3 separate regions of the Homo sapiens genome follow, and all the other regions are linked to region 1. The links come from fine-mapping of genetic effects on gene expression. A gene starts in region 1. Each other region holds a variant in brackets. All regions are shown on one strand. Distances are between the middles of the regions.

What was found. PIP is the estimated chance that this variant, and not a neighbour inherited with it, causes the effect.
Region 2: its variant is the best candidate, but not a certain one, in a credible set for the expression of PM20D1 in visceral fat (GTEx, PIP 0.84).
Region 3: its variant is the best candidate, but not a certain one, in a credible set for the expression of PM20D1 in amygdala (GTEx, PIP 0.57).

Annotation. Positions count from the first base shown.
Region 1 is chr1:205,847,214-205,852,445 of GRCh38, forward strand. It overlaps PM20D1 (peptidase M20 domain containing 1), which reads right to left and starts at 2,919. Exons shown (of 13, transcript NM_152491.5): 1 at 2,691-2,919; 2 at 672-758. The coding sequence starts at 2,859. RefSeq lists an enhancer at 2,848-3,142.
Region 2 is chr1:205,884,060-205,889,291 of GRCh38, forward strand. All of the region lies in intron 1 of PM20D1-AS1 (PM20D1 antisense RNA 1), which reads left to right. Among named protein-coding and RNA genes, the nearest start is that of PM20D1-AS1, 25 kb to the left of the region's middle. The variant A/G (reference allele first, on the strand shown) is at 2,142.
Region 3 is chr1:205,890,981-205,896,212 of GRCh38, forward strand. It overlaps PM20D1-AS1 (PM20D1 antisense RNA 1), which reads left to right. Exons shown (of 3, transcript NR_046097.1): 2 at 176-329; 3 at 3,188-5,107. Among named protein-coding and RNA genes, the nearest start is that of PM20D1-AS1, 32 kb to the left of the region's middle. The variant G/A (reference allele first, on the strand shown) is at 2,080.

The DNA.
Region 1 (5,232 bases):
AGGGGGCTGCTTGCTGCTCCTAGGCCACCTTCTCCCACCTCTGACAACTTTGGAGGGGTTGTTTTTAATTAGATTTAGGAAGGTAATCTCATCACTCTCCATGAGATTTTCATAAGGGGAGGGAGGAGTTCCAAGAATCCTTTTTTCCTCTGACCCATCCTTCCTCAGCTCTGTACTCAATGGGTGGTAGGGATGAGGGAAAAAGACTGATGTTATAGCTCAAAGTTGTTGACTGCCTAGAGGCCTAGAAATGTGTTAGTAATGAATCTGGGGTAGGCCTGAGTACGTGGAGTGTATATGTACCGGTGTGTTTGGGTGTGTAAGGAGGTAGGGGTGGGAGGAGCATGGAACATAGTTCTGGGCAGTTGCACAAGTAGAAGGAAATCCTAGTTCTACTTTTTGATGATTTAACATTTATTGAATGACACACATGTAGGGCAAAATTTGAGAGAGTTTGTACTCTAATGCAATGGCTGGATGAACTCTCAATCTTTGCCCTACATATGGTGGCTTAGTTTTTCCAAGAGCAAATCTACAGTCTCTACTCTGCCTATGGGAATTAGATTGTCCTCTGATCAGTCGCAAAATAAACTTCTTTATCACTTTGTAAAAGAACTGTGTCTCCATTGCTATTTCTACCACCCACCCCTTGCCCCTGATTTGCAGCTGACCTTTATGAATGTATTTTCCGAACTCAGCCAGGGCTGTAGTATTGGACTTCTCAGAGCTAAAAGTCACTGTTGGAATCTGGATGGCACCTGTCAGAGTCAAATAGAGATGAAAGATTGAAAATGAATTAGTCATTGTTTTTTTCTACAGTCCTCTGTGCACAAAAAGTTCTTTTGCCTTCATTATCATATTGCAGAGGGCAAAACACTAATGTGAGGTAGGCGCTATTGTTTCCTCTAATTCGAAGATGAGGGAAAATGCTTGGAGAGGTTAGGTGAGCTGTCTGAGCAACAGGCAGACTATAGATTTAAACCTATGTCTTCTGGGTTTGTTTAGGCTGATATGGTTCTTAAAGGCAAATACAGTCTAAGATTGGAGGGAAGTGGATTTTTGGATCCTGGTCTTGAAGGGAAGCTACTATAAATTGCTTCCTAAGGCCTCACTACCTCTGAAATCACCAATTGCTTTGATGAATCCAAGCTTCATCATTCTCAAGGCACCCACTGTCCTGGGTCCCTACATCAATGAGGCTTGTGTGTTTTTGTATGTAAAGGCTTATTCCTTATGCAGAGTCTCACTAGTCTGTCAACCAAGACCAGCTTTTTGGGCATATAATGCCTGGGAAGGGGTGGATTTAGAAGCCTCCAAACAAACTCCTCAGTCCTAAAATAATCTCACCCTCCTTACTCAGTTGTCTCAGTTCCTGAACCTTCACTGGGCTCATCCCTTTGAGTCTTTAAGACTTTACAGTTTTAAAGAGTTCCATGATCAAAGACAAAACCACTGGGAGGGAAAGCATGAATCATGAGAATATTGAATTAGACTGCTCTCCAAGAACACAGTGCAAACAAATTCACCTGAGGCAGGAAGGGTCTCTGAAAGACAAACTTCATCAGTTTTGCTAAGGATCAACCCTACAATAGCATAGCCCACCAGATAGATGGGGAAGCCGAGGTTCAGAAAGATTCAAGTGCCTACTCAAGGGCAGACCCAAGGATCTGATCTCAGGTGTTCTGTCCCCTGCTCAGAGTTCCAAGCTGTGTTGCTATGAGGTCCCTATTCTAGCTTATGTAGCTTTTGTTCTCTTCTGTGCAGACTGTGAGTGGCTGTCTAATGCCTTTTAGAGAATTATTTATGCTTTGGGAAAGCCCTGCTCTGCCTCCCAGGCTTGTCACTCTAGCATATGAACAATCTATATCCAACTATTGGGGTTAGCTTTTGGTCCCTGCATCTGCTTCTATATGTTTATGCAGGCAGTCTCTCTTAATCCATTACTTAATGAAAGGGAAAAGACTGGAGCTAAGCTGAATGGTAAAGAAGGATTTCATCCCATAGGATCTAGCACTCAACAGAAACTTTCCTGTTTCCTGGAAAATGCAGATTCAGAACAGGGATGAATTTTTGGTCTGGATTAGAGATCTAGAGGAGACATGTTCTTCAATTATGATTGAGAATTAGGAACATCCCACACCCCGGGAACACTCCACTCCCTTTCTTTAGAGCCATCTGATCCCAGCGAGTCCGACAGGCACTAGATGCTGTCACCCACTGCCCACTCTTTGCTGTGGGGCCCTGGGGAAGATCATTTAGCTGACCTAAGCCTCAATTTCTCTCCTTTGTAGATAAGACTAATATCATTTGTCTTATTTTACGACACCGCAGTAATTTATCAGGCATGCAAACTTTCAAAGGTTAAAATTGATGTACAAATGAAAGCTGGTGTAATACTCGAGGCAAGCAGGGGAAAGAATGGACGGTGGTCACGCCAAGAGGGGTGAAGTTGGAGCTTCCAGGTTAGGCAGGGCACACCAGAGTTCCAGGAGCCAGGTATGGGGGAAGTGTGGCGTCCCCAGACAGGGGCACGATGTGCTGGGAAGGGTGTTGGGGCCGGGCTGGGGTGCGTGTCGGGGCTCCAGCTGCAGTAGCAGATGCTTTGCGGCGGAAGCGGGGAGTCACGGGTTGACCTGGGGAGGGAGGGACCCACATATGAGCATAGGTGGGTGAAGGGGACCCGGGTTCACCTTTCAGCGCCTCTTTCATCGCGACGCGTTCCTCTTTGCTGAACTGAGAAGGGATTCGCGACGCCCTTTGATGCTCCCCGCTCCTCGGGCCCATCGATCTGGAGACGGTAGGGAAAACTAGGAGCAGCATAGCCACCAGGGCCAGCACGCAAACGCACCGCTGAGCCATGCTTCTCTCGAGCTCCTGCTGTCAGGCTACCGGGGTAGTTCTGACCTAAACGCCCAGACTAGCGTTTCTTGGCCCTAGCTCTGCTCTTATTCCGGCAAACAGCCTTAGCCACACCCCATATCCAGATCTGACCAATCATCGCTTCGCTAGGACAGCGGAACAACCAATTGACAGAATGACCCCGCCCAGGATCCTTAAGGCCTTTCGAGGGTTGTGGGTTTTCGTGCTGAGGCCAGCAGTTCCTGCAGAGCAGAGGTGAGGTCGGGCTCCAGGCTAGAGTCATGTCTGGTCCGCACTTGATCTCTCACCCATAAATCCTTTCCTGTATGACAACAAATCAAATAAAGGAGGAAAAGCAAAATAAAATGCACGAAGCTTATCAGACCATACTCTGCTGCTCGTTTTTTCCGAAGCTTAGAACCTGACTACAATTCCCTAGATCCTGGGGCGGGGGAGCTCTCTAGGTTCCCAGCTTGATTTCATCTGAAATTGGAACAAATTGCTCTGTTTATAGATACTGCTTTGAAATACCAGCTCAGAGGGTTGGCTCCTGTTTAGAAATTTCATTGAAAGTGCTTTTAATATTAATGTTAACACTACATTTTTGCAACTCTAGACAAGTACAGTAAGACTGAAGGATTTTTAGAAAGATTACTATAAAATATTTAAGAGAATTTTGATGTATAAATAATTTTGATGTATTCCACAAGTGAAATTTTATGGTTATTCAGAGTAGAGGATCATTCTGGAAAAAAGAAAACCTGTCTTATGTCACAGAAATATAAAATCAGATTTCCTGAAGCCAGAATAAATCGTTCCTTTCAGATTTCTTGATGCAATTTTATCTGGCATCACTCTCAAATTTTAGAATTCTCAAGAAAAATTCAGTAAGTGCTATACAACCAGTAAGGCCATATTGCTACCTGTGACCAAAGCTACAGGTTCACAGTCCTGGTGTTTGCATTTCATTTAAGATTTGCTTAAAAAAAAAAATTCAGCCATGTAGTTACTTTTCTTTTCTTTTCTTTTTTTTTCTCTCTCGGTGCCCAGGCTGGAGTGCAATGGGGCGATCTCGGCTCACCGCAACCTCCGCCTCCCAGTTTCAAGCAATTCTCTGGCCTCAGCCTCCCAAGTAGCTGGGATTACAGGCATGCACCACCATGCCTGGCTAATTTTGTATTTTTAGTAGAGATGGGGTTTCTCCATGTTGGTCAGGCTGGTCTCGAACTCCCGACCTCAGGTGATCTGCCCACCTCGACCTCCCAAAGTGCTGGGATTACAGGCGTGAGCCACCACACCCTGCCTAGTTACTTTTTAATAGCAACTTTAAAACAGTATCATGAAATACTTCACATATTATAAAGATATAAAAAATAACATAATGAACATTTCTGGATTCACCACCTAGTTTAAGATTTAGAATGTTAAAAATAGAGTTGAAATTTAAACATGAACATTGACATAATTTTTAGTAAAAAGTAGCTTAATCTCTACCTAACTTTAAAATTTTTTTAAAAGAGACTTTTTATTTTATATATTTATTATTTTTTAAAATTATTATTATTTTTGTAGAGATAGGGTTTCACTATTTTGTCCAGGCTGCTCTTGAACTCCTGGACTCAAGCAACCCTCCCATTTAAGCCTCCCAAAGTGCTAGTATTACAGGAATGAGCCACCACACCCAGCACAATTTTTATGATTGTAAAATTCATGTATATTTATGCCCTTGTGAAATATTTGGAACATTAAGTATAAAGAAAAAAATCACATGCTATCCCAATATCCAGAGACGTTCACTCATCATATTTTGATGTTATCCAATCTTTTTTCTCTGCACACAAATACCCACAAATGAAGGATGTCCCTGTTTTAAAATGAAACAGATGCATATACTGCATCCAAAGTTCTATGTTCTGCTTTTTTTCCTTTAACATTATGTCATAAACACTTCCTGGTCCTTAAATATTCTTTAAATTATCTTATCACATAATATTTGATAATTAAGAGTACGTACAACGTGTATGTAAAGTAAATAATAACATGAACACCCGTGATTTGGAGTTTAGACCTAACTGGTCAAACTGCATTTTTTCTCCTGTCACTGCTCCAATTCTTGCAATCTGTCTAATTCCCACACTGTTCCCAGATCTAGCCAATCATGGAAAATTATCAGTAGCATTGAAGGTGCATGTGTTCTATTGCCTTTATTTTCCAACTCCCTGCCCAAGGTAATTGTATGACCGTGTTGTGTGTTTTAAATAGTTCTACAACATATGTATGATATACATATATGTATAGTGTGTGTGTGTGTGTATATCTTATAAAAATGACATCATGTTGTGTGTAGTCTTCTGCAATTTGCTCTTTTTACCC
Region 2 (5,232 bases), 37 kb after region 1:
GTTGCAGTCCCCAACTGTTATTATATTAGGACCTGTCTCTTCCCTTAGATCTAATAATATTTGCTTTATTTGTATGTGAGTGCTCCAGTGTTGGGTGCCCATATATTTACAACAGTTATATTCTCTCATTGAATTGACACCTTTGCTGTTATATAATGTCCTTCTTTAGCTCTTTACAGCTTTTAACTTGAAGTCTGTTTTGTCTGATATAAGTATAGCTACTCCTGCTCAAATATGGTTTCCTTTTGCATGGAGTATCTTTTTCTATCTGTCCTCTTTCAGTCTGTGTGTCTTTAAAGGTAAGCAGCATATGACTGGGTCTTGTGTTTTTATCCATTCAGCCAGTGTATGTGTATACATATATATATATATGTGTATATATATATGTGTGTGTATATATATATATATGTGTATATATATACATATATATGTATATGTATATATATACACATATATATGTATATGTATATATATATACACATATATATATATATATACACATATATATATATATTTTGTGAGCAACAAGGCTGTTTATTTCACCTGGGTGCAAGCAGGCTAAGTCCAAAAAGACAGTCAGCAAGGGTGGTGGGATTATCATTAGTTCTTATTGGTTTGGGGATAGGCGGTGGAGTTAGGAGCAATGTTTTGCAGGCAGGGGGTGGATTTCACAAAGTACATTCTCAAGGGTGAGGAGAATTACAAAGAACCTTCTTAAGGGTAGGGGAGATTACAAAGAATCTTCTTAAGGGTGGGGGAAATTACAAAGTACATTGATCAGTTAGGGTGGGGCAGAAACAAATCACAATGATGGAATGTCATCAGTTAAGGCTGTTTTCACTTCTTTTGTGGATCTTCAGTTGCTTTAGGCCATCTGGATGTATACACGCAGGTCACAGGGGCTATAATGGCTTTGCTTGTGCTCAGAGGCCTGACATTCCTGTCTTCTTATATTAATAAGAAAAACAAAACAAAATAGTGAAGTGTTGGAGTGGTGAAAAATTTTGGGGGTGGCATGGAGAGATAATAGGCGATGTTTCTCAGGGCTGCTTCAAGCAGGATTAGGGGCAATGTGGGAACCTAGAGTGGGAGAGATTAAGCTGAAGGAAGATTTTCTGGTAAGGGGTGATATTGTGGAGTTGTTAGAAGGAGGATTTTTTGTATAGAATTATTGGTAATGTCCTGGATGCGGTTTTGTATGAATTGAGAAACTAAATGAAAGACACAAGGTCTGAAGAAAAGAAGGAGAAAAATAGATATTGAATGACTAGAAATTGGGAGTGCCCAGGATGTCCAATTAGAGTGTCCAAGGGGATTCAATGTTACTGTTTTCTTGATTGGTGAGTTTTTTGGCTCTATCCTTGAGTTTTTTTATACCATGCCAGATTGATTTAGATAAAAACAACACTCTTCATTTAAAAATATACAGAGTCCCCCTTCCCCTTTTTTTTAGCAGTGAGTAAGTCAGGGCCTTGGTGATTTTGGAGGAAAGAGAAATGCAAAGCCAGCAATTGTTTGTTAAAGAAGGATTAGAAATGGCTAGGAGAGAGTGAGTTTGATAGTGTGGTGGAGATAGCTGGGGAGAGGTAGAGGGTGGCATAAGAATAGGAACCAGAATAAGAGTGAGTATAAAAGTAAAGAATAGGACTTCATCAGGGTGAAAGTATTGGAGTGTACTTTGTCAATGAAGATCTTCTATCCACTTAAACAGAGACTTAAGGGTGGCAGTTTGAGGTAAAACCAGGCACCACTGAATACCAAGAGCCTGAGAAACTGCTTGGGTGATTGGACTAGTAAAGGCCGGTCTGTTATCGGACTGTATAGAGGTGGGAAGGCCAAACCGAGGAATTATGTCTGACAGAAGGGAAGAAATGACCATGGTGGCCTCCTCAGACCCTGTGGGAAAGGCCTCTACCCATCCAGTGAAAGTGTCTACCCAGACCAAGACGCATTTTAGTTTCCTGACTCAAGGCGTATGAGTAAAGTCAATTTGCCAGTCCTGGTTGGGGGCAAATCCCTGAGATTGATGTGTAGGGAAAGGAGGGGGCCTGAACAATCCCTGAGGAGTAGTAGAATAGCAGATGGAACACTGAGAAGTGATTTCCTTAAGGATAGATTTCCATGGTGGAAAGGAAATGAGA[A/G]GTTCTAAGAGTCAGGCTAGTGGCTTGTAACCTACATGGGAGAAGCTATGAAATGACGACAGAATAGAATGGGCCTGTGAGGCTGGAAGGAGATACTTTCCTTGGTCCAAGAACCATTTGCCTTGTGTGGGAAGAGATTGATAGGTGGAAGTTTCAGTGGGGGAGTAGGTGGGAGTGACCAGATAAGAAGGAGAAAAGCTGCTGTGAGGGATAGAAGTTGGAATGCTAGCTGCTTTTTTAGCTACCTTATCAGCATAAGCATTGCCCTGAATGATGGGATCTGATGCCTTTTGATGGTGCTTGCAGTGAATGACTCCAGCTTCCTTTGGAAGTAAAGTGGCCTTGAGAAGAGTTTTTATTAAAGAGGCGTTAATGATGGAGGACCCTTGCATAGTGAGGAAACCTCTTTCAGACCATATAACAGCATGGTGGTGCAGGATATGGAAGGCATATTCAGAGTCACTATAAATATTGACGCAAAATTCCTTTGCAAGAGTGAGGGCTCAAGTTAAGGCAATGAGTTCAGCTTGCTGAGAGGTAGTGGAGGGGTGCAGAGTGGTAGCCTCAATGATAGATGTGGAAGATACTCTAGCATAGCCTTCCTTTGCTGGTGAGTGGAGATTAGGCCTGGTGGAACTGCCATCAATAAACCAAGTGTGATCAGGGTGAGGAACACGAAAGAAGGAAATACGGGGAAATGGAGTGAATGTCAGGTGGATCAGAGAGATACAGTCATGGGGGACAGTTGTGGTATCAGGAATAATGTGGGAGGCCAGACTGAAGTCCAGGCCAGGAACAATGGTAACTGTCGGGGACTCAACAAAGAGTGAGTACAGCTGAAGGGGCCAGGGAGCAGAAAGTATATGTGTCAGGTATGAGGAAGAAAATAGATTTTGGAAGTTATGAGAACTGTAGAGGGTGAGTTGAGCATAGTTTGTGATTTTGAGGGTCTCTAAAAGTATTAGGGCACCAGCAGCTGCTGCATGGAGACATGATGGCCAGCCTAAAACAGTAAGGTCAGGTTGTTTGGACAAAAAGCCTACAGGGTGTGGTCCTGGCTCTTGTGTAAGAATTTTGACCGCACAGTCCTGTACTTTGGCTGTGTGTAACGAAAAGGGTTGGGATGAGTTAGAGAGAGCTAGTGTGGGGGCAGCTTCTAGGGCTGTTTTTAAGGAACGGAAAGGGAAGTGGCAAAAGGATTTAGGATCTATGGGGTCAGCTAGGTTTCCTTTTGTGAGTTTATATAATGGTTTAGTCAGGATGGTAAAACTAGGTATCCAAAGGTGGAAGTACCTAACCATGCCTAGGAAGGGAAGAAGTTGTTATTTTGTAGAAGGGGTTGGGGTTTGGGAGATTGGCTGGACATGATCAGCTGGGGGAGCACGTTGTTTTCATGAAGAATTATGCTGAGATAGGTAATGGATGAGGAAGAAATTTGGGCTTGACTGAAGTAATGGGGGCTGTCCATGAAGCCTTGTGGCAGTACAGCCCTGGTAAGTTGCTGAGGCTGATGGGTGTCAGGGTCAGTCCAAGTGAAAGTGAAGAGAGGCTGGAATGAAAGGTGCAAAGGAATAGTAAAGAAAGCATATTTGAGATCTAGAACAGAATAATGGGTTATGGAGGAGTTGTGGAGGGAGGCATTGAGGATAGGAGAGTATATGGTTTTGGCACCATGGAGTGGATAGGCAAGACAATTTGGTCGATAAGGCACAGATCCTGAACTAACCTGTAAGGCTTGTCTGGTTTTTGGACAGGTAAAATGAGGGAATTGTAAGGAGAGTTTATAGGCTTTAAAAGGCCATGCTGTAACAGGTGAGTGATAACAGGCTTTAATCCTTTAAGTGTGCTGTGGGATGGGATATTGGCATGATAAGGGTGATTATGTTTAATGGGATAGTAATGGGTGTGTGATCAGTTGCCAGTGAGGGAGTAGAGGTATCCCACACTTGTGGATTAAGGTGGGGAGATAACAAGGGAGGATGTGAAGGAGGTTTTGAACTGGGGAAAAGGGCAGCAATGAGGTGTGGCTGTAGCCTAGGAATAGTCAGGGAAGCAGACAATTTAGTTAAAATGTCTTGACCTAATAAGGGAGCTGGGCAGGTGGGGATAACTAAAAAGGAGTACATTAAAGAATATTGTCCAAGTTGGCACCAGAGTTGGGGAGTTTTAAGATGTTTAGAAGCCTGGCCATCAATACGCACAACAGTTATGGAGGCAAGGGAACAGGCCCTTGAAAAGAAGGTAGTGTGGAGTTGGTAGCCTCTGTATTGATTAAGAAGGGGACAGACTTACCCTCCACTGTAAGTTACCCAAAACTCGGCATCCGTGACAGTTCAGGGGGCTTCTGAGGTGATTGGCAGTGTCAGTGTTCAGCCACTAAGCCAAGAAGACCTGGGAAGGAGACAGTCAGAGCCTTGGGCCAGTTGGACAGTCCAATTTCCAGTGGGGTCCCGCACAGATGGGACACAGCTTAGGAGGAATCCCAGGCTGCAGGCATTCCTTGGCCCAGTGGCCAGACTTCCAGCACTTAAAGCAAGATCCTGGGGGAGGAAGTCCTGAAGGGATGCCTGGCTGCTGTGGCTTAGGCATTTTGAAGTTTTTGTGTGCTGGAGATATGGCTGGGGTTTCTCTCACAGCAGAGGCAAGTAATTGCAACTCTTCTCTATTATCATACACCTTGAAGGTGCAGTTAATTAAGTCCTGTTGTGGGGTTTGAGGGCCAGAATCTAATTTTTGGAGCTTTTTCTAATGTCAGCAGCAGATTGGGTAATAAAATGCATAGAGAATAAGATAGCCTTCTGGCCCCTCTGGGTCTAGGGCAGTAAAGCGTCTAAGGGTTGTTGCCAAATGGGCCATGAACTGGGCTGAGTTTTTATATTTGATGTTAAAAACTGATTTGGGAGAGGTCGGATAAAGAAAAAAAGGAGCATTAACCTTGACTATGCCTTTAGCTCCAGCCACCTCTTTAACAGGAAATTGTTGGGCAGGTGGGGGAGGGCTAGTTGCAGAACGAAACTGTAAGCCAGATTGGGTGTGAGGAGGGGAAGTGATAGAAAGATTATAGGGTGGGGGAGCAGAGGCTGAGGAAGAA
Region 3 (5,232 bases), 44 kb after region 1:
TCCCATAAGGAATAATTTTAGTTAATCTAATATCTATAGAAAGAATGCTAATGACTAGCTTGCTGTTAATAAATACATGGGTAAACCTCTGTTGGAGGCTCTCAGCTCTGAAGGCTGTGAGACCCTTGATTTCCTACTTCACTCCTCTATATTTCTGTGTCTTTAATTCCTCTAGTGCCACTGGGTTAGAGTCTCCCCGACCAAGCTGGTCTCAGCAAGTGGTCTCCATCATGGGGGCTCGAATCCAGGTTGAAGGGTCACCAGAGTGATGGTTGGAGAACATGGAACTAGCTGGAGGACACCTGAGTACTCTTAAAGCAAACCCCGTGGTGAGTAAGAAGGGGAGCTCAGAAGCATCAGGGTAACAATGGGACAAGTGTGGGGTCTGGTTCGTTCCATCTTGGAACTTTTTCACACTGATGATGAGGAAGAAGGAGAGTATAATGAAGTAACAGAAGAGGTTATAGAGCAGGTTTATTTGCCAGCTAAAGCTAAAGTGGCAAAGGAGGGAGAGGTTCATCCCTACCCTTCTGCACCCCCTCATTATTATTTTGAAGAAAAAGAGTGGCCTGACCCTCCAGATCTTTCTTTTCCAGAGGACAGTGGGCAAAAATTAGTTGCCCCAGTGACTGTTCAAGCAGCACCTCGAGCGACTGCTCTTAGTTCTATTCAGTCAGGAATTCAGCAAGCTAGATGAGAAGGTGATTAAGAGGCTTGGCAGTTCCCTGTTAGACTACACTGCCCAGACCAACAGGGAAATATTGTAGCTACATTTGAGCCTTTTTGTTTTAAATTACTCAAAGAATTTAAACAAGCTATTAATCAGTATGGACCAGGTTCTCCTTTTGTAATGGGACTATTAAAGAACATTGCTGTTTCCAGTCAGATGATTCCTACTGACTGGGACGCTCTTACTCAAGCTTGTCTAACTCCTGCTTAGTTCTTACAATTTAAAACTTGGTGGGCAGATGAAGCTTCCATTCAGGCTTCTCACAACACGCAGGACCAACCTCAAATTAATATAACTGCAGACCAACTTTTGGGGGTTGGCAGTTGGGCTGGTTTAGATGCACAAATGGTCATGCAGGATGATGCCATAGAACAGCTTAGAGGAGCGTGCATTAGAGCTTGGGGAAAAAAAATCACTTCAAGTGGAGAACAATACCCTTTCTTTAGTGCTATAAAACAGGGACCAGAAGAATCATATGTGGATTTTATAGCTCAGTTACAGGAGTCTCTTAAAAAGATGACTGCAGATTTGGCTGCTCAGGATATAGTGTTGCAATTATTAGCTTTCAACAATGCTAATCCTGATTGCCAGGCTGCTCTGTGACCTATCAGAGGGAAAGCACATTTAGTTGATTATATCAAGGCCTGTGGTGGTATCAGAGGTAATCTGCATCAGGCCACCTGCTAGCACGGGCAATGGCAGGACTGAGAGTGGATACAGAAAGTACTCCATTTCCTGGAGCTTGTTTTAACTGTGGGAAGCATGGTCATACTGAAAAAAAAAAAAGTAGAAAAAAATCAGCAAGTCGGGCCACCAGATAGGGGAAAAAAGAAAACTGCTGAGCCTGAAATATGTCCAAAATGTAAAAAAGGAAAACACTGGGCTAATCACTCTAAGTTTGATAAAGATGGGAACCTGATTTCAGGAAAAGCCATGAGGGGCCCATCCTGGGCCCCATTCCAAACTGGGGCATTTCCAGCTCGGGTCATTCCCTCACCCCTGTACAATGCCTGTCCCCCACCACAGCTGGTAGAGCCACACTAGATTTATGCTGCAGTAGATTTATGCTGAGTCTTCTGCCTGGGGAACCCCTGCAAAAGGTCCCAACAGGAGTCTGTGGTCCCTTGCCAGCAGGGACAATAGGATTAGTTCTAGGCAGTTCTAGTTTAAATTTAAAAGGGGTACAAATACATACAAGAGTCATTGATTCAGATTACAATGGGGAAATTCAAATTGTTATATCTACTTCTGTTCCCTGGAAAGCAGAGCCAGGAGAGTGCATAGCACAGCTCCTGATTGTGTCATATGTGGGAATGGGAAAAAGTGAAATTAAATGAACAGGAGGATTT[G/A]GAAGCACAAATAAACAAGGCAAAGCAGCTTATTGGGTAAATCAAATTACTGATACACATCCTACCTGTGAAATAACTATTCAGGGAAATAAATTTAAAGGTTTGGTAGATACAGGAGTGGACATTTTCTCTACAGCACTGGCCGTCTGCATGGCCAATTCAACCCACTCAATTCAACTCCAATAGTTGGAGTTGGTAAAGTCCCTGAAGTATATCAAAGTAGCTATATTTTGCATTGTGAAGGGCCTGATGGACAACCTGGGACTATTCAACCAATTATAACTTCTGTACCCATAAATTTCTGAGGAAGGGATTTATTACAACAATGGGGAGTACAAGTTCTAATTCCAGAACAATTATATAGCCCTCAAAGTCAACATATGATGCATATAATGGGGTATGTTCCTGGTATTGGACTAGGAAAAAATTTGCGAGTTTTGAAAGAACCACTGCAAGTGGAAAGACAAAATTCCTGCCAAGGCTTAGGATATCATTTTTGATGGCAGCCATTGTTAAGCCTCCAGAACCTATACCTTTAAAATGGTTAACAGATAAGCCAATTTGGATAGAACAATGGCTGCTAAGTAAAGAGAAACTGGAGGCTTTAGAGAAATTAGTTCAATTAGAAAATGGGCACATAGCCCCAACATTTTCTGCTTGGGATTCTCCAGTTTTCATAATTAAGAAAAATTCAGGTAAATAGAAAATGTTAACTGACTTAAGAGCCATCAATTCAGTTATACAACCTATGGGAGCATTACAGCCAGGATTGCCTTCTCCTGCTATAATTCCAAAAAATTGGCCTTTAATAGTCATAGATTTGAAAGACTGTTTCTTTACTATCCCTTTGGCTGAGCAAGACTGTGAATGGTTTGCATTTACAATTCTTGCAGTAAACAACCTGCAGCCTGCTAAGCATTTTCATTGTTTTACAGATGGGTCTAGTAATGGTAAAACTTCTTATTCTGGCTCAAAAAGTAAAGTTTTCCAGATGCCCTATACTTCAGCTCAAAAAGTGGAGCTTGTAGCTGTAATTGAGGTATTGACTGCTTTTGATATGCCTGTTAATGTGATTTCTGATTCTTCATATATGGTTCTTTCCACACAGTTAATTGAAAATGCTCAGTTACGATTTCATACAGATGAACAACTGAAGACAAAAACAACAAAGGGGGAGAAAGAGGGATTATGGGACAGCCCATATACAATTGAATCTAGCATTATTAACTTTAAATTTTTTGAGTCTGCCTAAAGGCCAGATGTTATCAGCAGCTGAACAGCATTTACAGAAACCGGCTGCAAAGACAGAAGCAGAACAACTGGTTTGGTGGAGAGATCCGATAACAAAAAGTTGGGAAATAGGTAAAATAATAACTTGGGGTAGAGGTTATGTTTGTGTTTCTCCAGGCCAAAATCAATAACCAATTTGGATACCATCAAGACACCTGAAACCTTATCATGAGCCAGATGCTGAGGAAGAGATTCCAGGAGGATCCTGAGGACCCCCTGGTTGCAGCCACGTCGAGGCTGACACTGAGGAGGACCCCAACTGTCATGAGCAACACCCGTCGAACACAGCCATCCACCTGGGGACAAATCAAGAAGCTGTCACAGATGATGGAAGAAAACCTGAGGAAAGCGGGACAACCAATCACAATGAGTAATTTGGTGATCTATCACAGTGATGATCACCATTGCCATGAGTATTCCTTCAACAAGGGCTGACACAGAGAACAATTATACTTATTGGGCATATTTATCAATCTTGTCTGGCAATAATGCCTAGATGATTTCACTCTATGGCACAGTTACACATGCTTTCTGATCTCAGTATTTACCATAATAAATCTGCTCCTATAATTGAGGCATACCACCCTCAAAAACCTATTTGTAAACAAAATAGAACCTGGCCAGAAATAATGAACAACTTGTTTAGTAAGATTGCATTGCAGAACAGGCAGAGATGCTACGCAATGATTCCTATGGGATCATTGATTGGTCCCCTAAGGGGATGTTTAGCTTAAATTGCACCTCTCAGTCTGCATGCCATGGCCACACTAGTTCAGATGGTCTGAACAAAGTGGTCAGATGGCAGAAATGATAAGAAGTATGGCAAAAGTTCCTATTGTCTGGAACCATGGCAGTATAGTGTCACCTCAACCTCAAATGATATGGCTCATTGTAGGAGCTAAACATAAGGATTTGTGGAAACTATTAATAGCTCTTAATAAGATCAAAATTTGGGAAAGAATAAAAAAAGCATCTAGAAAGACACTCTACAAACTTGTCTTTGGATATTACAAAATTAAAAGAACAAATATTTAAAGCATCCCAGGTACACCTGACCTTAATGACAGAAACTGGAGTGCTTGAAGGAGCTGCAGACAGATTAGCAGCTAGTAACCCATTAAAATGGATAAAAACACTTGGAAGCTCTGTGATTTCAATGATGATTGTGCTTTTAATCGGTATTGTTTGTCTTTGTATAGTGTGCAGATGTGGATCCTGACTCCTGTGAGAAGTAGCTCACAGTGTCAAAGCTGCCTTTGCTTTTATCGATTTGCAAATCAAATAAGGGGGACATATTGGGAACAGCACCCCCCCCCCCAAAATCTGGCCATAAACTGGTCCCAAAACTGGCCATAAACAAAATCTCTGCAGCACTGACATGTTCATGATGGTCTTAATGCCCACGCTGGAAGGTTGTGGGTTTACCAGAATGAGAGCAAGGAACACCTGGCCCACCCAGGGTGGAAAACCACTTAAAGGCATTCTTAAACCACAAACAATAGCATGAGTGATCTGTGCCTTAAGGCTGTGCTACTGCTGCAGATAACTAGCCCAACCCATCCCTTTATTTCAGCCCATCCCTTCGTTTCCCATAAGGGATACTTTTAATTAATCTAATATGTATAGAAAGAATGCTAATGACTGGCTTGCTGTTAATAAATAACGTGGGTAAATCTCTGTTGGAGGCTCTCAGCTCTGAAGGCTGTGAGACCCCGGATTTCCCACTTCACACCTCTGTATTTCTGTGTGTCTGTCTTTAATTCCTTTAGCACCACTGGGTTAGGGTCTCCCCGACCGAGCTGGTCTTTGCACTTCTCACTTCTGGATATAGGCCTCCCTAGAGGGTTTTTTTTTTCTTTTTTG